2 linked regions of the Homo sapiens genome follow. The protein of the gene in region 2 interacts with the protein of the main gene of each other region in a pairwise test. Each region holds a gene or a part of one and is shown on either strand. Other genes may lie near its edges.

What was found. Proteins that work in one complex are often made in the same cells at the same time.
Region 1: the proteins of RNF32 (region 2) and MAST1 interact in a two-hybrid assay, tested with the Homo sapiens proteins (one study listed by BioGRID).

The regions. Positions count from the first base shown.
Region 1 is NC_000019.10:12,833,539-12,841,517, forward strand, and holds the start of MAST1 (microtubule-associated serine/threonine-protein kinase 1), read left to right. Parts: upstream 1-4,976; 5' UTR 4,977-5,034; coding exon 5,035-5,117; intron 5,118-6,907; coding exon 6,908-6,996; intron 6,997-7,452; coding exon 7,453-7,528; intron 7,529-7,979. Other genes in the region: RTBDN (retbindin), read right to left, coding at 1,247-1,308, 1,545-1,560. UniProt on the Homo sapiens protein: Microtubule-associated protein essential for correct brain development. Appears to link the dystrophin/utrophin network with microtubule filaments via the syntrophins. Phosphorylation of DMD or UTRN may modulate their affinities for associated proteins.
Region 2 is NC_000007.14:156,650,763-156,657,781, forward strand, and holds part of RNF32 (RING finger protein 32), read left to right. Parts: intron 1-3,422; exon of another isoform or gene 3,423-3,813; coding exon 3,814-3,956; coding exon of another isoform or gene 3,957-3,973; intron 3,974-4,375; exon of another isoform or gene 4,376-6,272; intron 6,273-6,692; exon of another isoform or gene 6,693-6,778; coding exon 6,779-6,811; exon of another isoform or gene 6,812-6,929; intron 6,930-7,019. UniProt on the Homo sapiens protein: May play a role in sperm formation.

The sequences.
Region 1 (7,979 bases), on a different chromosome or scaffold from region 2:
CTCACCAAGGGGGTCTCTGGGGGATGAATGTAGAGGGAATGTATCTCAGGGAGAAGGCTTCCTTTGGGGTGTTTCTTGACTGAGGGTTCTACCCCTGAGAATATCTCTCCTCTGGGGTGTCTCTTTTTATAGTGGTCTCTCGGCAGCTTGGCTCCCATGGGGGCACCAGGAGGCTCCGCCCCCCCGCCCGCCCCTTCCCCCCGCCAGCGCGGGCAGCGGTGGCTGAGCCCGGGCTCGGGCGCCCAGACGCAGTGACGGCGCCGGGCCCGCCCCACTTCGCTCCGCCCCCGCCCCCGCCACCCCTCCCCTCAGCCGCCGCCGCCGCCGCCGCCGCGGTCCCCGCGGCTTCTCACTCCCTCCCTCCTCCCTCCTCCCGCCGCCGCTACCTCCCTCCTCCCTCCCCGGGCCGAAGTCGCCGCCGCTGCCGCCATGGACGATTCGGGCCTCATCCGCCGCCGGAGGCTGCAGGTACGCGGCTGCCTGGGCCCCGGGTGGAGAGGAAGGGGTCGGCGCCCTGGGGCGGGGCTGGGCAGGAGGCGGGAGAACTTGCACTAGGGTCAGCCGGGACGCCCCCACCCATAGGTTCGGGACGCTAACCGCGGGGAACGCTGTGGCCGCGCGTCCCGCCGCGCTGGGGACCCCGCCCCTCAGGCGCCGCCCGGCGATCCAGGGAGCTGCCGGAGGGGTGCAGCCTAGCGCTCCCCCTCGAGGATCGCCTGAGGGGCGCCTGGCCCGCCCTAGGGGGATGGGGCTGGGGCCGAAGTCATCGCCCTGGCGCCTCGCCAGGCTAGGGGTGAGGGGGCGCAGAGCAAAGTTATTGCCCTAGGGCTCATGCCCCTCGGGGCCATCGGCGCCGCTGGAGGCGTAAACATGTTTGTGCGGCAACCTCGCCCCTCACCACCCCAGGAGCCCCCTCCCGAGGCATAGGACGCCCTGCGTCCCCCACGCACCTGCCTGGCCATCAGGATTCTTCCTACTGCCCTAATTGGACAGGCACCTAGACAGCTTTCTCACTCTTCATTCCACCTCCTCCACTACAACATCCGCCCCCCCACCGCGATCCTCAAGTCCAGCCCAGCTTGTGGGTGGGCGGGAGCGATTTTTAGCTCCTTGCAGCCTTAGAAGATGCTGGTCTCGAGGCTGCGCAGGCGCAGGAGCCGTGCGTCCACTGCACGGAGTGGGACACTGAGGATCGCTGTGGAGTGTGGGGAAGGCGGGGACAAACTCAGGTGTCAGGAGCTCCTACCTCCAAGGTGGGGAGGGATTCTGTAGCCGAGAAGCGTCCTCTGCTCGTCTTCAGCTGCGTTTCTGAGGGGTTAGTACGGAAGTTCAGGGTTAATACGGAGGTCCGGTCCCAAACATCCCAGAGGGGAAGGTGATGATATCTGTGCCCCAAGGCCCTGCCTGGGGTCTGGCCCTTCTGAGCCTCCTTGGGGCTCAGCCCCAGGCTTGGTAATCTGGAGTTTAGATAAAGCCGAGAATGGGCCCAGACTCAGGCTCCATCCCCAGCCTGAATCTTGGGAAAAGAGGATTCAAACCCTCACCTAGGGCTTCGTCCATTTCTAGACTCCCCTAATCCATCATTCCCGAGGTTGAAGGCCAAGGGGAGCTGATTGGTCAGTGCAGCAGGAAAAATGGTGATCAGACTGCAGGAAGGACCTTCCAGGCGTCTGGGTAACGCCGGAGCCAGACATGAGTTGGAAAACTAATTTGCTTTCAGAGCCCAGATGGCCCGATCTCCGGAGCCTAGGCCTCTCTGAAGTGCTCCCACATTCTCTCCGCCTCTCGGGGGTGGGTTAGGAGAGTGGGTTCCGAGAGAAGGGAGGCAGCTGCGGCAAAGTTAGAGCAAGTACTGCAGCAGCCAGGTTGGGTCCGCGCCGTCGGGTTTCTGAGAAAAGGGAGGAAAGAGGCGGGGCCTGCACGGTGTGTCCCCGCCCTCCAGGCCGGCGTCAACTCTCATTGGCTCAGCGCCACGCGGGACTTTAAACTCCCGCTCGAGACACCGCCCCCAACGCGGAATGCTTCCACTCACCCACCCACCCACTCAACCCCAGGCTTGCTCTGGGTCCGGCGATCCCTGTCGGAGTCCTGTCCCCACCGCTTCCCTTCTGGCGGGATTAACCACTTCGCTGCCTGGATACACCCACATACGTTGGTGCATCCTCTTAGGAACTGTCGCATCACTGCTGAGCGCCCGAGGGTCCCCTGTGTGCAGCTAGGCTCTTTTTTTTTTTTTTTTTTTTGAAACGGAGTCTCGCTCTGTTGCCCAGGCTGGAGTGCAGTGACGCAATCTCGGCTCACTGCAACCTCCGCCTCCCGGGTTTAAGAGATTCTTCTGCCTCAGCCTCGCTAGTAGCTGGGATTACAGGCTCATGCCAACATGCCCGGCTAGTTTTGTATTTTTAGTAGAGAGTGGGTTTCACCATGTTGGCCAGCCTGGTCTTGAACTTCTGACCTCAGGTGATCCACCCGCCTCGGCCTCCCAAAGCGCTGGAATTACAGGCGTGAGCCACCACGCCCTGGGATCTTATATGTAGACAGCATCCTGAGTTCGAATGCCCTGTCTGCAGTGTCAACTATTAATCCTGTGCGGGAGAAGCGGAATCCACTTGGCCGAGCGGCTCTGCAGCTGAGATTGGAGGTGGCGTCTGTTTACACTGACGCCAAAGACCCGAACTTCCGCCGCTCCAGTTTGACCCTTTCTTCGTCCCTAGAATGTTTGGGGGCGCTAGCGGGTGGGGCTGGGTTCCAGGTCTTCTTCGGGTGGTGCTTAAAAGCCCTCCAGGGGCTTACCCTCCAAGGCCGGTTACCCGGATCTGGACACCCTGGGCTCTGTGGCCAGAAAATCCAGGTCTTGATTTCGCTTGGGCCATTGCAGACACGCAGCCAGGTCGACTGGTCCTCATTCACTCCGGTCATGCAAAGACAGAGGGAAAACCTGGTTTGGATTATCGGTCACCCGTGGCTCGGGAGGGCAGGGCTGCCCTTTGGCCCCGCCTATATGTTTGTCCGTTGTACAACGGGGTGGGAGGACGCTGTGGCCCATCCTCTGTCATGCAGCATGTCCCTCCTTAATAACGCCTGTTCTCCAGACTTAGTATTTATTGAGCACTTGCTATGTGCTAGGCACCATGCTAAGGGGCTAGGCATCTGCATCAACTCCTAAGATCCTCAAGGAGACACGGGACTATTGGAAGGTCATTTGCCAAGGTCATAAAAAGCAGAATTGAGATTTGAACCTAGGCTTTTTGCTTTTAGAGATCCTAGAAATGTCTAGGACATCCCTCATTTTCCTTTTGTTGGAGTCCCCTCCAAAGGCCTTTTGAAACTCTCCCCCAAATCTTTCCACCTGCAGCCCCACTCAGTTTCCTTCCTTCCACCTCACCCTGTGGATAGAAAACTGGCTGGCAGGTGTTGCCCCTTGTACCCCATTCCTTTCCTCAGAAAAAAGCCAAGACCCCATATCTCCTGATCCCTACAGTGACTTCCTAAGAGCTTGACAAATGGAAGGTGACCTTCTTCAAATGCAGACACATAAAGTTAATACTCACTAATTATTATTATTGTCATTATAAAAAATGACTATGCGGCCATCACCTGAATTTCCATTTTTATTTTTTTATTTTTTAAACTTTTTATTATTTATTTATTTATTGTTAATTGAGAGGGTGTCTTACTCCAGCAGTGGTGCAATCATAGTTCACTATAACCTCGACCTCCTGAGCTCAAGAGATTCTCCCACCTCAGCCTCCGTGGTTCCCATTTTAAATCTCAGTTGTGAGTCACTCTACTTACCTACCCCCCACCCCCTACCCCAACTCTATGACTCTAGCTGGGAGTCAGATAGATCTGCTGAGGTGTAGATGAGTCATTCATTCTTTCAACCTTTCATTCATTCAACCTTTCATTCATTCATTGAGTACGCTAAGCTTATTCCCGCCTCCAGGCCTTTGCCCTTGCAGTTCCCTCCACCTGGAATGCTCTCTCCACAGATCCTCCCATGGCTGGCTCTTATCTTTCAGCAACCAGCTTAAAAGTCACCTCCACAGAGCAGCCCTGTCTGACAATGTGTCTCCATCCTAGCCATTGTCCATCACATCACCCTGTTTAATTTATTCATAAGACTAATTATTGTCTAAAATGATTTCGTTCACTTCTACACTAATCTTGTTTAATGTCCCCTTTACCCTATAAATACTAGTCCCAAAAGGCCAGAAACTTTTTTTTTTTTCTCCTTGAGACAGAGAGTCTTGCTGTGTTGCCCACGCTGGTGTTTCCTTGGACTCAAGCGATTCTCCTGCCTCAACCTCCCAAGTAGCTGGGACTAGAGGTGCACACCACCACACCGGACTTGTAATTTATTCACTACTGTGTCCCTAGTGCCTAGGATTGGGTCAGCATACAGTAGGTGCTCAAGACATATTTTTCAAATAATGATTCCTATTTCATTTGCACAAACACACGCTGATATGCCAACTCACTTGCCTTTATATGGCGCCCCGCCTGTGTACGTGGGCCTCTGTTGGTCTCTGAGGGTCAGGAGAGGAATCACCCAGGGATCCTCTCCCCCAAGAAACTTGGCCCGCAGTGCATGGCCAAGGGTGAAAGTGACAGTGCTGAAGAGGGGCCTGTCTTACCCTGCTTCTGCTCCTCCAGGGAGTTGATAATGCTTGTGGGCAGCAACGGCAGGTCCACGCTGACCTTCATCGTTTTGCCCCTTTGCCTTCCAGAAGGATTTGCCCCTGCCCCGGAAAAGCAGCAGGTGAGCCTGGGGAGAGACGTGGCGGGGGCTGGCCGCCCCTTCTCCCGCCGGGGTGGGGGCGCCAGGCGAGTGCGCGGGCGGGGCCTGGCTCGCCGGCACGCAGCAGCGCCCCCTCCCGGCCGGCTGCAGCCGCAGGGCCCTCCCCTTCCCTGCCCTCCCCTGCCCGCTGCGGCGGCTGCAGCCTCCGCCCCGCGCGCTTGCTCCCCGCGCCGCCGCCGCCGCCGCCTCCGCCGCTGCTGCCGCACCTGCCACCATGTCGCCGCCGCCGGGTCATGTCTGACTCTCTCTGGACCGCGCTTTCTAATTTCTCGATGCCCTCCTTCCCCGGCGGCAGTATGTTCCGCCGCACCAAGAGGTAGACCCCCGATCCCCTAGACATTGTCCCGGCCCTCCCCGCAAAAGCCGCCGCTCCGGGTACTGCTGCAGGGCGGGGCCCGGGATGCTGCGCCCGGTCCAGCTGCGCCAGAGGTGCCCCAGCTGCGCCTTCCCGCCGGGGTTGGGGTTGAATGGGGGGTGGTGTGGGCCGAGTCTGGGGGGCTTGCACGCTGGAGAGGACGGCCGCGGGGGGAGGGGGCTGCGCCACTGGGGGTTTGTGGCGCCTTTGTCTGCTGGCGCTGCGGGCTCCAACAGCCTGGTGGGGGTAGAGGAAGAAGGGGAGGCTGGGGGGCTTGGCACCCTCAGAACAATAGCCGCAGCCTGGCCTCCCCCCACCCCCATGCCGCGTGCTCCTGGACGCGCTAATATGCTCAGTCACTGCGGCTGTGGGTGAGGGGACGGACGGAGGGGCTTGGGGCTCCCTCTTCGGGAGCTGGATGCTGAGGGGTAGAAAAAAGGGGGGGTTTATCATAACACAACCCCCCCCCCCGAACACAGCCTTACACTGAAAATAGTGACACACAGCGTCACACAGGACATGATGTCACACACATACACACAACAGCCCTAGTGGCCCAGATACACTGGGAGGTGCCACACATACCTAGCCTTGCAGCTGCCACAGGTCAGAACCATGCACAGACACACAGGGGCACCACGTCGTGTACACCTAGTAAGATGTCACTTACATGGCGATCCACACACACACAGTTATGTCATCCAAGATGCAAACATGTGTTTCAATATCCCATCCATGCATCCAAGAATGTCACAACACACGATGTCATATCTAGGTATCTCACATACTATGTCACACTGACATCAGGATAAACAGATGTAGGGATCTTGCAGAGACAGAACCACGCAAAATCACATGTTATCACATTGCAAGACTCACCTAGAGAATGTCAAATGTGGTGACATGTTTGGACACAGTGTCACAAGATGTTAAATTCACACAATAGATGCTACATACACATGGACAAGCATGGTGAATGTCACACCCAGACGGAAGGACAGTATCGGACACAGACTCAGAATGCCACACAAAGACATAGATACATGTAGGGGGGATCATGCATCCTGGCCAGGCATGGTGGCAGGCACCTGTAGTCCCAGCTACTCAGGAGGGTGAGGTGAGGCGGGAGGATTGCTTGAGCCCAGGAGTTTGAGGCTGCAGTGAGCCACTGCACACTGCACTCCAGCCGGGCGACAGAGCGAGACATTGATTTAAAAGAAAAAAAATAATAATAATACAACCTGCCTGTGTTACAGCACACATTGTTATGGACAAGTGGCATTTCACACTGTGTCACATAGACACACAAATGCTCAAATTGTATCACACAAGATAAACCCACGTTGTGTCACACGTATCACACTAGAATGCATTCAGCGTCACACATTGTTGAATTCATACAGTGGATACCACACGTGGATACCTACAGTGAATGTCACGCATAGACTGAGACACGCTCAGTATCACCAATGGTGTCACCTAGACACAGTGACTATCACACCATGACAGACACTGCCCTACACATAATCCATACTGAGAGTTTCTCACACACATGTCATATGCACATCCCCTGCCGTACACAGTCCTGCCGAGGCCTGCACCACCTTTCTTCGAGAAACCCTCCCAGGGAGCCTCCAAACACACATGGATGGGAGATAGGCGGGGATCTGAGACAGGAGGTCAGCTGGTGGGGCTCAAGAACTCACTGGGCTGCGGCCCGGCCCGGCCCCCCTGCCTTACCTTCCCCGCAGCTGCCGCACCAGTAATCGGAAAAGCCTCATCCTGACCAGCACTTCACCCACGCTACCGAGACCCCACTCCCCGCTGCCAGGTCACCTAGGTGAGGCCAGTGGTAGAGACTTGGTGGGTGCAGACTGGCCTACAGTAGGCGGGGCCTCAGGCGAGGAAGCGTGGTCATGCTACAGAAGGGGCGCAGTTTGAATGGAGGCGAACCAGTTTGGATAAGGGGCGGGGCCATGCTTGTGTGGGTGTGGTCAGTCGCAGAGGGACGGTCATTGGGGGGCGGAGACTCAGGTGGGCGGAGACTCAGGTGGGACGGACAGAAAGGAGGAGTCGTACCTGAGGGGCGGGGCCATCCCAGATGAAGCCAGAATCGTCTTGGAAGGGGCCAGGCTGACTCGGCAACGAAAAAATTTAGAGAGGCGGGGCCACAGGCGAAGGGGCGTGGTCTCCCCATAATAGGCGGGACTAGACTAAAGACAGGACATGCTGCTGTTTGCACGCCGCTTTAGGGAACGAGAGACCTGACAGGATTTGCCCCCTCTTTCTCTCATAGGCAGCAGTCCCCTGGACAGCCCCCGAAACTTCTCCCCCAACACCCCCGCCCACTTCTCGTTTGCCTCCTCCCGAAGGTGAGTCCCTCCCCTCCAGGGCCCCAGAACCCTGGGCAGACCCTCCCCAACCACTGTCTGGGCCGCCATCTGTTCTCCTCCTAATTGCACCCGAGCTGGGGCCTGAGGGGACCAGCGAGTGCCCCAAGGTCTCAGCGGGAAGGAGCGCCTAGCCTTCGGGGCGGGGCCTATAAGAAGGCGGGGTCCAATCGCCGATCTGGAACGGGGAAGGCGGTGGGGCTCCCTTTGCGGCAGGTCGAAAGCGCGTGCGCCCTGGGCGCGGGGTCTTAGTCTCTCCGAGCCTTGCTCTCCTGGCCAGGTGTTTCCATAGCAACAGGACGGGGCAGCCAAGATGACGTGCGCAAGCGCAGATTGCGCGATGCCTATCGAGGGACTCTTGGTCCCCGAGGTGGGGGAGGACGACTAGGGCTGTTTCTCAAGGGGAGGAATCTCAGGTTTCTTTCCAAGGGTC
Region 2 (7,019 bases):
AAAGGCAAAGAGCTGCCCTGAGGCAGCGCCCCTCCTCCGCAACCTCAGTCTCAGCCTCTTCAGTCTTACTGTTCATTTGTTTCTCTGCAGGCCAGGTGCTCTCTCACTAATGGCCATCTGCACATCCTTTTCCTCCATCTAGAAAACCTCCCCCTTCACCTGCTGCTGTTACTCTTAACCCTGCGGGTCTCCATTTAATGCCACTTTGGTCAAGTAACCTTCTCTGGGGTCACAGCCCCATGCATCCTGCACACCATTCTCCATAGCGTTCATCACACTTGTAGCTGCTTGATTCTTATCAGAAGATCCATGGGCATAGTTTTAGAAGTAAAATTGTTCTATGAGGATTATAACAGAAAGTGTAGCATTCCCCTGACCCATTTTGGGCATTACTCTAAGGCAGCCATTTTCAAATCCTTTGGTTCATTCTTCTGGTATTATTTTTAATATTTCTTTTTTTTTTTTTTTTGACACACAGTCTTGCTCTGATGCCCAGGCTGGAGTGCGGTGGCACAATCTCGGCTCACTGCAACCTCCACCTCCCGGGTTCAAGCGATTCTCGTGCCTGAGCCTCCTGAGTAGCTGGGATTACAGGTGTGTGCCACCACACCTGGCTAATTTTTGTATTTTTAGTAGAGACGGGGTTTCACCATGTTGGCCAGGCTGGTCTCGAACTCCTGACTTCAGGTGATCCACCCACCTCGGCCTCCCAAAGTGCTGAGATTACAGGCGTGAGCCACCATGCCCAGCCATATTTTTAATAATTCTAAATAACATGTCTACGCTGCTGTTTTGTTAATTTTCAGTTCTGGATATCTCTTCTTACTGCAGAAGATCGAGATTTAGCATATTGTTTTCATAACTTGTGGTTAGACTAATAACATTCAGTGTTTACTCTGTTACAATTCCGTGACTTCACTCACAGCTGAGCAATGTGGTGTTCTATATTACAGTTTCCTTCTCAGACATTTTTCTATTCTACCTGAAGTTCTGTCTCATTTTTTCACATTTTAGTTTCCTCTATCATCACTCATCACTGATTCATCCCTAAAATCTCCTCCAGAAATACATTATCTCAATACATTAAAATATACCAGGGCACTTTATCAATGGGGACGTTGCTTCTGGAATCCTCCGTGGTCCCCTCCCCCGGCCCCTCCCCGGGCTCCCTCTTGAGCAGCATCCCGGGACCCTGGGCTCTCTCCTTGGATTCTGTCTCCCTGGACCTCATGGCGGCCTCCTCCTTGGTTTCTTCCCTCGTAGTGGCGACGCTTCTCTGTCAGTAGCTCCCTGGAGGAGTGCGGAGGAGACCCACACAGAAGCTCACATGTGTAACAATGTCTTTGCTCTTTTCTCACATTTGATTGATAGCTAATAAGGAATCTTGATATGGAAATCTTTCCTTCCTCCGAATTTTGAAGGAATTGTCTTCTCCTGTCTGTTGTGCTGTGGATGAGTCTGATGCAGTTCTGATTCCTGATCCTTTTTTGAGGCCTGTTTTTTTGAGTCTGCTTTCTGTCTCCGAGATTCTCACAGTGACGGGATTCGATGTTCTGAGTACTTACTGGGCCCTCTCAAACCAGAAGCTCATGTCCTTTGCTTCTGGGAGATGTTTTGGACTATTTTCTTTAAAATTTTTACTCCCCATTTTCCATGTTTTCTTTCTAAAATGCCAGTTTTTCAGATGTCACAACAACACCTAGACCGGTCCCTTGATTTTCTTATTTTCTGTCTCCTGATATATGTTTTTCTGTGAGATTACAGTCACGTGCCACATAGCAATGTTTCAATCAACAATAAACCACAGTGCTCCCATAAAATTATAATGGAGTTGAAAAATTCCTACCACTTCATGACGTCTTGATGACTCTGACCCTGTGTTGGCCTAGGCTAATATGTGTGTTTGTGTCTTAGTTTTTAACAAAAAAGTTAAAAAAAAAAGATTTGAGAAATAGAAAAAGCTTATAGAATAAGGATAAGAAAGAAAATATTTTGTATTAACTGAAAAATTAGCTGAGCATGGTATTGTGTGCCTTTGGTCCCAGCTTCTCAGGAGGCTGAGGTGGGAGGATAGCTTGAGCCCAGGAGACACAGCCTGCAGTGAGCCATGACCACATCACTACGTGCTAGCCTGGACAACATACTGTTTTAAGCTAAATGTTATTGTAAAAAATTTAAAAGTTTAGAGAGTAAAAAAGTTATAGGAAGCTAACTTTAATTTATTATTAAAGAAAATATATTTTTATAAATTTAGTGTAGCGTAAGTGTAGACTGTTTATGATGTCTACAGTGGTGTACAGTCATGTCCTAGGCCTTCACACTCACTCAGCACTCACTCACTGACTCACCCAGAGCAACTTCCAGGCCTGCAAGCTCCATTCATGGTGAGTGCCCTACACAGGTACACCATTTTTAATCTTTTATACATATTTTTACTATACCTTTTCCATGTTTGGAAGCACAGATCCTTACCATTGTGTTACAGTTACCTGCAGTATTCAGTACAGTAACATGCTGTGCAGGTGTGTAGTCTAATCAGCTGTACCGTGTAGCTTTGGTGTGTGGTGGGCTGTACCAGCTAAGCATGTATACATATGCTGTGATGTTAGCAAGATGACGAAATCGCCTAACAGCACATTTCTTAACAACAATCGCCTGTTGTTAAGCATCTCAGGACTGTATCTTAGCTTTCTCTTCCAGCCTTTCAGTGGACGTTCACATTTCTACTCTAAAAGCCCAAGAGCTCTTTCTGTACTCGAAAGTGTCCCTTCATAGTTTTCTGTCATGTTTTGTCGATGTAACATTTTGTCTTCCATTTCTGAAGATATCCTTGTAAGTCGATGCTTTTTTATGCATTGACCCGTCTTTGGGGTGCGGGGAGGTGGTGGAAGGTGAACTTCGCTTCCTGCATTTTGCCTGAGGATGTTGCAGTTGCTTTTTCAAAGTGAGTGTTTCCCACCGCACTATCAGCTCGATGCCGAGACAGCACATGGTGGGTACCCACGTGTTATTGAAATAAGAACTTTATTCTGACCGTGATGATACGTCATAGAAAGTTTTTAGCAGGGGAGGTGCAGATTGATGTAGAGGCCACTGGTGGCAGAGCAAGGTGAGCTGGGAGAGGCAGTGCTGAAGGCTGAGGGCTGAGGCAGGTGAGAACTGGGAGAAACTTGGGCCAATACGTGTGAACAATGAGTATTCCTCAGTTTTTCTTTCATAAACTTGGATATCACTCCTGCTTGCCTTATTGAGTTATTGGGAAATGAAATAAGATATGGGAAATGCTTTGTAAATAAAAAATAAACGTATTGAAAATGTCAGGTATTATTACCACTGACTTTTGCGCCCTCATAGAAAAACGGCATCCTATATACAGTCCACCATTTGTATCCGTGGGTTTGGCATCCACAGATTCAACCAGCCACAGATCAAAATTTTAATAAATGAATAAAAAATAACAATACAACAATATAATAAAAATAATACAGATTAAAAACAATATAGTATAACAGCTATTTACATAGCACTTGCATTAGGAATTATTGGTAATCGAGATGACTGGCAGTATACAGGAGGATATGCATGGGTTGTATGCAAATACTCCACCATCTTCTATCAGGGACTTGAGCATCCTTGGAATGTCCTGGAACACATTCCCTGTGGATACCAATGGACAGCTTCTATTGTGAAATAAAGTATGTGATCTATATGTAGTTCTTTAATCTTTGTTTGCAAATGGTGTCATTAAAGTTATAGGTGGGTGCCATATGCTAAAAGACACTCTAACTCCTGTCCTGTGCTGTCTTACTTTAGCACAGAAGTTGGGCCTCATTGGGCCTCCACCACCTCCACTGTCATCAGATGAATGGGAGAAGGTGAAACAGCGCTCTCTCCTGCAAGGGGACTCCGTGCAACCATGCCCCATCTGTAAAGAAGAATTCGAGCTTCGTCCTCAGGTGTTTAGCATACGAGGGTGAGCTAGAGAGCTCCTGGGCTGTTTCCTAGGGACGAGGCCCAGAGCTGGAGCCTAAGATTCCAAGCTTCCTTTTTCCAGTTTCATCCTCCTGTGTGAGCCTCACACACTTCCATTTTGTTTTCCATTAATTAAAGTGTGTGAAGAGCTAAACACCCTCATTAAATAGTTTTGTTTGTTTACTAACTGGTATTCTCAAGTACTAAAGTTTGTACAAAAGGAATGTTTCTGTTCAACAGGCCCCATGCGGCTGTGCAGACAACTGGGGGGCTTCCCAGGAGCAGCTGTGTCCCAGCGCGGGAAGGATGAAAGCAGAGGGACTCTTAAGTGGTTTTGTGATTTGAGTCAGAAAAGAAAAAAAAAACTGTGCTTGAATGTCTCCAAAGAATTTGTGAGAGAATCTTTAAGAAAAGTAAAATCTTTTAATGATTTTTATTCATGAAACTTTACCATAGTAAGACTGATGATACTACTCTGGGTTAACAGATAATATACACGCGCGCGCACACACACACACACACACACACAGAGAGAGAGAGAGAATGCATATATATATATAGAGAGAGAGAGAGAGAATGCATATAGGGTTTTTTCTATACATATTTTGTCTGCCTAACTAAACTATTGTCCCCTGAAGTTGGGGACACTTAGATTTATCAGAAGTGTGTGTGTGCGTGCACGTGCGTGCGTGGTTGCCCTGTAACAATTTCCCACGTGGTGTGGCATTACGCTTCCTGCATAGCAGGCCCTCAGAGATTTGCTGAGAAAACACAGCAAATACAGTTAAAATCAGCCTTGGAGTTTGTAGCCTAGGAACCCAGGCTTATTACAATCTGGGCAAATGAACTCTGAGTCTTCATTGAATTTGAGTAGGTTTCATCAGCAAGAAAGCTCACAACAGTTACACTTCTATTCACTAATTTGAATTCATAAGTTACTTTAGACATACTTATTATATTCCAGTTCTCTATCAGGACCTAATCTTACATATGTGAAAGTTGGGTATTTTGGACAGATTTTAGCCCTGAAACCACAAATTGTCTAGGATAATTTAGTAATTTAATGTAGCAAAACTGTGAATAAAGCCAGAGGGTGTCTTTCTGGCTAAGCACCCTCTTTCTTACTTATACTAAAATATCCAACCCGAGTGTCTGTATGAAGAATGAAAAGTGAAAGTTACTATCTTATGGGGATCAGGGTGTACCCTGCCCAACATTTCTTTCTGATTTTTATAAATTTCTCACTAAATTCCATTATTTTTACTTGGTTTTGATATAAGACCCATCCTGTATATTTTGCATTTCCAGTGATCATTTCCATGTTCAGATTTTTCCTTAGTTATAAACAATAGTTGGCATTTTTATAACATTTAGTGATTTCAGAGGGCCTTCAATTAATTCCGTATAGTAGGCATTCTGCCCATTTAGCAGATGAGGGAATAAAAACAATTCAAATGACTCATAGTAGGCCGACGCAGAAAGTATCAGAGTCCTGCTGGAATCCAATCCTAACTTCTAGGCCATTTTTAGTGTGTTTTCCACTACTTAATCCTTGATTTTTGTTACATCAGAGAATGTTTGCCAATAACAAATATTTGGGGACACTTAAAAAGATAACACTTTAATATACTGACGTCTAATGTTGCTCCATATAGATAGAATATATGTTGATAAAACACTGAAAAGTATTCTATAAAGAATGAATTAAGTATAGAAAAGATTGCTATTAAATGGTGGTAATGAAAAAGGACCCTATTACTGAGTTTATTCAATTCAGACTTACTCTTGGCAATAAGTTTCAAGAAAAGGTTTTACAACTTTCTGAGTTCTAGTTATTTCTGTATTTCTTCCATTTAAGAAGAAAAGCATACATTGAGTGAAGGCAGGTGGGATTCACTTTAAAAACTGTTAAGTTTTCCCCACAGCAGGCATCCTGGGCCGGCTGAGATTGAAACCTCACCCAGGAGTGCCCCAGACTGTGGTCACCCAAGTCAGATTCTTGACAAAAAGGGAAAACCCTTCGCCTGACCCCACCGCTTTGCTCAGTCTCACAAGTTTCCCCTGCTTTCCTCCCCGTTGCTGAAAGCAGCCCCTCCCAAGGGAAGCAGGAGCCTGGCCTTTGTGTGGCAGCCCGCAGGGCCTGGCGCTGGTGGGCTGGCGGCTGTCCCTTCTACTAAGTACCCACTGCCTTCTTCTTCATTTGGTCTAAGCTTCAGTCTTTTGTCACAGCCCAGTATATCACTGTTTAGTGGGGAATTTGGGTCACAGAAAGGTGAAGTTTTCTTGTGAGCACACTTTCCCTGCATTTAAAAAAGAAAAAAGACTCCATGATTTGTTGCTATTTAAATTTAAGACTGTCAGAATTATATCTCAGTAGAGCTATGATTTCACAAAAATTGGGGGGCATAACTGAGCTGAACAAAGACCTAAATGGTATTTACTTAGCGTTTCCCTGGCCCCACTGGACAGGCCCCCCTCCTCACCCCTCCAGTTTGCAGTCACTGCCCGCATCTAAGGGAAACTTTCATTTTGTCATTGTTTCGCTCTTAAGTATACACTCATTTTAATAGTTAAATATCAAACTTCATGTGTTTATTTGATATTTCAGATCATGAATTTTTGTTATTTAGAGTATATACTTGTGCTGTGCTAAACAAACAATAAATAGTATAAATATCAAAGTTATTAATTTGCTTTTTTAAAGAAATAATACAGCTTACCTTCTAAGCATTCAGGATTTTAACTGTTGGATACATGCTGCTTCTCTTTTGTAAACTTCAACGTCGTTCTGTTTCCTCATGAACAGGTGCTGCTTTCATGCTCCCATGTGTTCCACAAAGTAAGTCCACCCCTCACGCCTGCCCAGGTGCTGCACATGTCGCTCTCACAGTGCAGAGAAACCATAGTCATTTTCAAGGCTCCTAAGGAGAGCCATTTATTTTATTCATCACCACCATCTATAGTTAAAGAAACATGACTGTAGGCTGCAGTACAATTCATCCTATTTTGAAAATCATGAGTTTTGTGACAAAAGAACCACAAATGTT